Homo sapiens: one gene and its partner. The protein of the gene in region 1 purifies or fractionates together with the protein of each later gene. This does not show direct contact. Each region holds a gene or a part of one and is shown on either strand. Other genes may lie near its edges.

What was found. Proteins that work in one complex are often made in the same cells at the same time.
Region 2: the proteins of CPNE4 (region 1) and PUM3 purify together in Homo sapiens (affinity purification with mass spectrometry; 2 studies listed by BioGRID and IntAct, with this or other methods). This does not show direct contact.

Annotation. Positions count from the first base shown.
Region 1 is NC_000003.12:132,028,334-132,032,084, forward strand, and holds part of CPNE4 (copine-4), read right to left. Parts: intron 1-3,751.
Region 2 is NC_000009.12:2,842,519-2,846,269, forward strand, and holds the start of PUM3 (pumilio homolog 3), read right to left. Parts: upstream 1,578-3,751; 5' UTR 1,527-1,577; intron 1-1,526. UniProt on the Homo sapiens protein: Inhibits the poly(ADP-ribosyl)ation activity of PARP1 and the degradation of PARP1 by CASP3 following genotoxic stress. Binds to double-stranded RNA or DNA without sequence specificity. Involved in development of the eye and of primordial germ cells.

The DNA of each region.
Region 1 (3,751 bases):
ATTTGTTCATCTTTCTCCTCACACTTAACAGCACAATTTCAATGTTTCTTTTCACCAGTCTGCCTGTGCCTCAAGTTTTTATGTTTATCCCCAGTGCCTAGCACAGCTTTTGACATAAATGCTGTGACCAATTATTATTCAACAGATAGATGAATGAGACCCTTCTGCTGAGGGGGAAGGGGTAAGAGATGGGGGAAGGGATAAGAGATGGGAGAAGAGGCCCATTTAAAAATAAAATGGTGATAGCAAATAACAATCACAGTGAACCTGTGTTAAGCTCCTATTGTGTGCCAAGCATTGTATATATTATTGCTAACCTTTAACAAAAAGGAAAAATGGCGAAAGTAATTTTATTTTCTCTTCTTATAGATCTGCACTGTTTCAATAGGGTAGCCACTACCCACATAGGAGCATTAAGCACTTAAAATGTGGCAAATCTGAATTAAAATGTGCTGTAAGTATAAAAATACATGCTAGATTTCAAAGATTTAGTACTAGAAAAAAAAGAATGTAAAATATCTCAATAATCTCTATATCGATTACATGATTTTTTAAAATTTTGTGTTAAGTAAAATATATTCTTAATTTTTCTTTTTTTTTTTTTTAAAGGGTGAAGTTTGGGGAGAACTCCCAAGAGAATGGGCACAGGAAGTAGCATTTATCTACGCACTAAAATGCCAGACACTTTTAAACACCTCACATTTACAACAATTACTAGCCCCATTTTCCAGATCCTAATACTCGGGTTAAGTGATTCACCCAAATGCCTGGATCTTGAAAACTGTAGCCCAAATTTAAACAAGGTATTTCCGGATTCAGAGTTCTTCTGATAACAGGCCCAAGTGTAAGGAAACAAAGGGCGATCAGACCCCAGAAAGGCCTGTCACGAGGAGTTTTGAGAGTAGTCAGACTGTCCAGCCGCGGAGCAACCTAACCAGGCACTGGAAGACACCACCAGATGCTCAGGGCAAAACCTTTTGTCCCCTCTCCGCAGCGAGGCAATCCAGGCCGGAGAGTCAGATGCACCTGAGAAAACCAATATCCCCAGGGCATATCTTGGGGTTGGGTCAAACTCCATTCCTTATCCTAGAAGCCCTGCTTATGGGTCCCGGAGGTTGACTCTGCTAGTGCTCCGGCGCCCTCTAGCGATTGTCCATTCCAATGCCAGCTCTCTCTAGTCCGTCCTTCTAGACTCACCAGCTCCTAGGGCTTGCCCTGCCGTGGACCCCTGCCAGCCTGATTTTGCTCCTCCCCTACCTCAAGGTGCAATGAATTGCCCTACACTTGGATAAGAAAGAGGTCTTCTGGTCAATAAGCCTTAAACCTGAGCTTTCTAAAGTTAATCCGAAATACTGTATTTTCCCCCTGACATTTCCAAGGAGAAATTTCTCTAGTTTCCTAAGTAATAAGAAAAACAAAGTTAGAAATACTGTGTTCTGAGCCAAAGATGTAAAAGCAACATTTAAGAAAGTTTGTTCTTTTTGAATGACGCTTTAATTTAAAACAGAATAAAGGATTCCCCTGTGTGTTCCTGGAACTGTAAACACTCATAAACTCTCTTTGTTTACTTTATTGACTCAATTGTGACATTTAAAATAGAAAGCTAAGTCTATGCATGAGCAATTTTTTACAGAACATGCACATTAACAGAGATGGCTGCAGACAATGACTTTGTACAAATTCAATCACATTTATTGGGTAAATATTGCACTGGCTCCAAGAGACAGCAATGTAATAAGTCCCAAGCCTACTCCTCCTAACACTCTAATGGAGGTGGGAGACACCCCCGCAATCATCCCTAACTCATACTTAATAAAGATCAGCAGTGCACATGGTGCCAGAGATTGGCTCCACTGCTGTAATTATCTCCAGGGAACTTGAGTTTCTTTATGAGGGGAGTAATCAGAAGGGTTGTTGAATGAGTCTCCTGATTTTGAGAAGTCACTTATTTGAGCTTTAGTTTCCACATTTGTCAAATTAAATTGCTAGAGTCAGCAGATGATCCCCAAGCTCTCTTCCAGTTCTGAGAGTCATAGAACATGCACATTAACGGAGATGGCTGCAGACAATGACTTTGTACAAATTCAATCACATTTATTGGGTAAATATTGCACTGTTGAAAGTTGCTGATCACAGTTTAGAGATGAGTCCATCACAGATCAGCTTAAATGGGCTCCCCTTCCAGCCCTATGACTAAAATAATAGGACTGGAATAAACTTTCCCAAAGAAGGCATCCTTATCACTTTCTTATTTTTGAGACTTGCCTTCCAACCCTCAATATTTACTGAGCTAAAAGCTGATGGTTCCCAAGAGGGTTTCCAAAGAATACAGCAGACAAATAAAGGACTTCCCAGGATGTGCTGATTTAGGAGAAAATATATCCAATATATCACATATATTTAGTAGTTCATACAGCAAACAGAAAGCTCCCACATAACTGCAGTTTCTAGTACAGAAAAAGAAAACCTGAAAGTATATGTAGGCACTAATATGTTTTTATTATGCAGTCACAAGTTTAGGAGATATTCACTGAGTTTAACACTAATTGAGGCCTTACTATAGACTATTTCAAATAACATAGAAAAGATGATGCATCTTACCTGACCCATTTATTGTGCTTGATTTTTGGATTTACCATCAACTATCACATAAATACTTTATCCAAAAAATGGATGTGTAACCCCAACCTAAATTATTATCATAATGTGCTTCCCTGAAAAGAAAATATTATAAGATTTTGGGGACATCTTAAAAAGAATTAAAATCAGTAATCTATTCTTTGCCATCTACATTCAATCAGGAGAAAGGCAACTGTATTATTACATGTTGGAAGATCAGTTTTAATGCACCAAAGAATGGTCTTGAACTATGTGACATTTTATTTTGAATGCATTTAAATTTTTCTATTTTGATATTTTGTAAATCTAGTGTACTGGCTACTGTTGCCAAGGAAATATGACTTTGGGTTACTGAATGGATCTGCAAAGGTTTTTGTTTTTCTTTTAAAATATTAACAAGACAAAAATGGAAAGATCAAATATGGAACACAAATTTAGCCCTTTCTCTCTTCAAAGTGCACGGAATACAGATCTTCTTACACACCACTGATTAAAAAATACAAAGATGCATGAAGTGATTTTTCCCAACTAGTGTAGAGACTTTTACCCAATTAGCCAAGTTGATATCATCAGAGTACCTGTCTCATTCTTTGTTCTGGATTCAGACCACTCTGAAAATGTGTGGTATTGATTACACACAACACTGACGGCTCATCTTCAATAAGTTCATCTCTAAATGAAAAGATCCTTTCTTTATGTGGATAAAGGTAACATAATGTTCTAGGGTGTTACATTTCAAAGAATTTTCGAAGTGAAGTCAGAAGAAGGCATAGTGCAAACCTTATAAATGTGTTCAGTATTAATTCCAAAAGATTCAAATACATATGAGAATAAAGATTCCACCATTAACCCATTTTTTTTGGTCTGTGATTGTTTCTTATAGTCAGTATAACCTCAAGGTTTTAAGTCATAATAATGGGCTTGAATAATCTAATTATTTAAAAGAATCAAAGCTTTTTTCTATTGTTTTGGAATATTACATAAAACTTCTCTATAAACAGATAACATCTTTACTTCCTACTAACTGAAATGAGGTATTTTTAATTAGAAATACACAAGCAGATTAAGTATACTTTAGAACAAACACCTTTTAATTAAAACCTCTAAAACCAGAGTCCCCTTAAGACAAACC
Region 2 (3,751 bases), on another chromosome or scaffold:
TCTACCCATCCTTCAAATTCAGTTTAAATGACATTTTCTTATAGACCAACCTCTACATGTTAGCATTCCTCAAATCTTTGCCCTAGGGAACTTCCCTTCTCTCTCCACACTTCTCCCTAGGTGGTCTCATCCAATCTCCTGGCTTTTTATGCTGAGTACTCCCAAATCATGTCTCCATTATGAACTTCTCCTTGGGGTCCAAACTTGTGTATAACTGCTTATCTGATACCTCTAATTATGTGTCTAACAGGAACCTTACCCTTAATATGTCCAAAACATAATTCTCTATGTTGTTCTTTATGTTATTGTTGTTTGCCCCACAAACAACAATATACTATTTTTCCCTGCCCTATCGTCCTCCATCTCAGCCAATGGCACATCATCTACTTTACTGCTCAAGTAAGAAATCTGAGTTACCCTTGACATTTTCCTCTCTACTCTGCCACGCTGAACCATAAGTTAGTTCTCTTAAATGTCCCTTACGTCACCACCCTAATGCAAACTATTACCAATACAATCTCTTGAGCTTCCAAATGTAATACATTTTCTAAAGAGAACCAGGGCCTATTCATGATTCTCACTTGCTTACAAGTCTTCAATGTTTTCTACACATGGTAATAGGAACGGAAATGTTTTCCTATTGTACAGAAAAAAAAATTCCCCATCATGACCTTCAAGGCCCTACAGAACCTAGTTCCACTCTATCCGGCTAACTTTATCTTGTACTCTAACTATACTCCTTCCTAGCTCCCATCTCAGGAACTTAGCCCATTATCGCCTCTGCTTGAAGTACTCCCTGAGCTTCCAAATCTCCGTTTAAAGATCACTTCTTCAGACTCCACTATCTGCCAACTCAGCATCCAGTTCGTTTCCTCCCAGCACTTAGAATCTGCGTACATTCAGGCAAACCGCCTAGCACTGGAGTTGGGGTTTGTGAAGTAGCACAGACAGGCTGATCAGGCCGAGCACGGGCTGGGATTCCGGAGTGAAGCTAGTCCACTCTAACCCGGCACGCAGGGCAACGTGGTGGGAGAGAGGTCGGAGTCCCGCCCTTCTTTTTTTTTTTTTTTTTTTTTTTGAGACGGAGTCTTGCTCTGTCTCCCAGGCTGGAGTGTAGTGGCACGATCTTGGCTCACTGCAAGCTCCGCCTCCCGGGTTCACGCCATTCTCCTGCCTCAGCCTCCCAAGTAGCTGGGACCACAGGCGCCCGCCACCATGCCCGGCTAATTTTTTGTAGTTTTAGTAGAGACGGGGTTTCACCGTGTTAGCCAGGATGGTCTCGATCTCCTGACCTTGTGATCCGCCCGCCTCGGCCTCCCAAAGTGCTGGGATTACAGGCGTGAGCCACCGCGCCCGGCCAGTCCCGCCCTTCTTGCCAGGCTCCAGTCAGTCCCAAACTCCTAGCCCAGAAAGAGGCCAGAGGAGACTGCCCAGTGGACAACAGCCCCGAGAGACCTTCCCGACTTCCAGCGCCCGGCAGGGTGCGAACCCCTCCCAAGAGCGACCGCTGAGCCTGCCACACTCACCGCACACGTGGGACCGAGACAGCTCGCGCAGCGGATCCCGACCGCCTCTCCGCTTCCGCTTCCTTGCCTTGCTCCGCCCCCGGGCCGCTTTTTTTCATCTTCCGCGGCGGATCAGGGACTAAGAGGTGGAGCTTCCCAGAGAATACAAAAATTCGGAATTTCTATTGGTCCGCTGCTGTTATGCCTCCTCTTGAGGCGCGAGGATTTTGGCCCTTGCAAGAATCCGTCGGGCGGAGGACGCGACAACGGCCACGGGAAATGACGTCATTAACCCTGTGGCTTCCGTGCTGGAAAGAGAGGGAGAGCTCTTGCGAGGCAGAACAGGCTGCTGAAGGACAGACCTGGCTGGCGCGGTTAATAAGAGGCCTGCATCCCGTAGCCTGAACAAATATTGAAGTAGCTAAAGTTTCTAAAGTGTGTTAATTTGCATACTTCCTCAGCAGTCCAGCGTGGAGGATAAAAGGGGTATCTTGTGAGTCGATTTGAATTGTAATCCCGTTTTTTTCACTTGCTAGCTGTGTGGCTCTGGGAAAATTACAGTTTTTATGAGCTTTGGCTTCCTGATCAATAAAATAGAAATAATTAAGTGATACGTGCAAAGCGCTTAGCATGGAACGCTCTCAATAAATGTTTGCCATTTTTAGTGTCTGCTCGTGCCTGGAAACTGCTGTTATTCCATTTTATACTTCAGGAAATAAGATTGTGGTTAGGATATATGCCCCATTTTCCAGATGAAGAAACTGACACCACAAACTTGCTCGTGTCAAGCAACAGAATTTTATTCTTTAACTGTTCTAGAGGCAAGAATTCCAAAATCAAGCTGTTGGCAGAGCCCTGCACCTTTTGAAGGCTCTAGGGGAGAATGCTTTGCTTCTTCAGCTTCTAACGGTTCCAGGCGGTCCGTGGCCTCTTGTTGCATGACTCCAATCTCGGCCTGTCTTCTAATGGCCTTCTCCTGTGCCTGTGCCACTTCTCTGTGTGTTTTTAGGACACTGAACATTGAATTTAGAGTCCACGGGGATAATCCAAGATCATCTCATCTGGAGGTCCTTAATCACATCTGCAAAGGCCCTTTTCCCAAATAAGGTCACTTTCACATGTCCTGGGAGTTAGGACATAGACATATCTTTTGGAGACTATTCAACCCACTGCATCTGTAAAGTTGAGGAACTGGCACTTGATCCCTGGTGCCAGACTTCAGATTTTACTGTCTTCCAACTTACTCCGTTTTCTGGCCACTAAGGAGTTAGAGTTGAAACTGGTAATTTAGTAGACTGTATGCTTCTTGATGACAGGGGCCATCATTACTTTCCAGGCACTTATCTCACTATGCAGCACATAGATACTTGATAAGTTCTTGTCGTCTACCTTAACTGTTACTAGTTTACATTTCAGCTCATTTAAATCTCATAAGAACGTTTTAAATAGGTCTTTTCTCATTTTACAGAGAAAGGCAAAACATAGTAGCTTTGGTCCAGTGAGCCTGACTCTAAACTCAACGTGGCTGCCTCCGTACTGCTTTCAATAATTCAGTAAATGCTAAGAGAAGAGAATATGGAACAGGAATTGCAGGAGGCCCATCAGCTGTGCCTTTTGGGCAAATAGCATAGTAGTGGGGATATTAGACACCTTGAAACACCTGACAAGTAAATGCTGGCCAAAAAGAAAGAAAAATCGCAAAATACACCCTATCACACAACCCTGGGAAGGGATACGTTTGTGTTTTCAACTCGACAGACAGCAGCACCCCATATCCTTGAAGATAGGTCCATGCAGTTGCCTTAAGCATCTGCACCAAAACCCTGCTATTCATTTGCCTTTTCACCAGGGAGGAAAAAAAAAATGTTATCACATATCAAAGCCCTTGATTATTATTAAAAACTTTTTTATCAAGTCTTCTGTGAAAGTGGATTGATTTGGATTTTTTTTTTTTTTTTGGAGTGAATTGAAAGCATCGTGTGGTTTTGCAGAACAGCACAAAAAAAGCTTATCCTGTAATTTTTTTTTTTGTCAAGCAAACCCATTAATTCTTCAAATATCTAATGATCTAAATGTAGACCACTAGGTGTACTCCTACAAGCCTAAGATGCTCTTCTTGCGTGATACACAATTTAATCAGAGCAACTAGACTTGCACACATCCAAGAGGTTAATAACAGTACTATAGCAATGCAATGACGAGCATTGAGATTAGAATCAAAGGAACCTGGCTTACAATCTAAATTC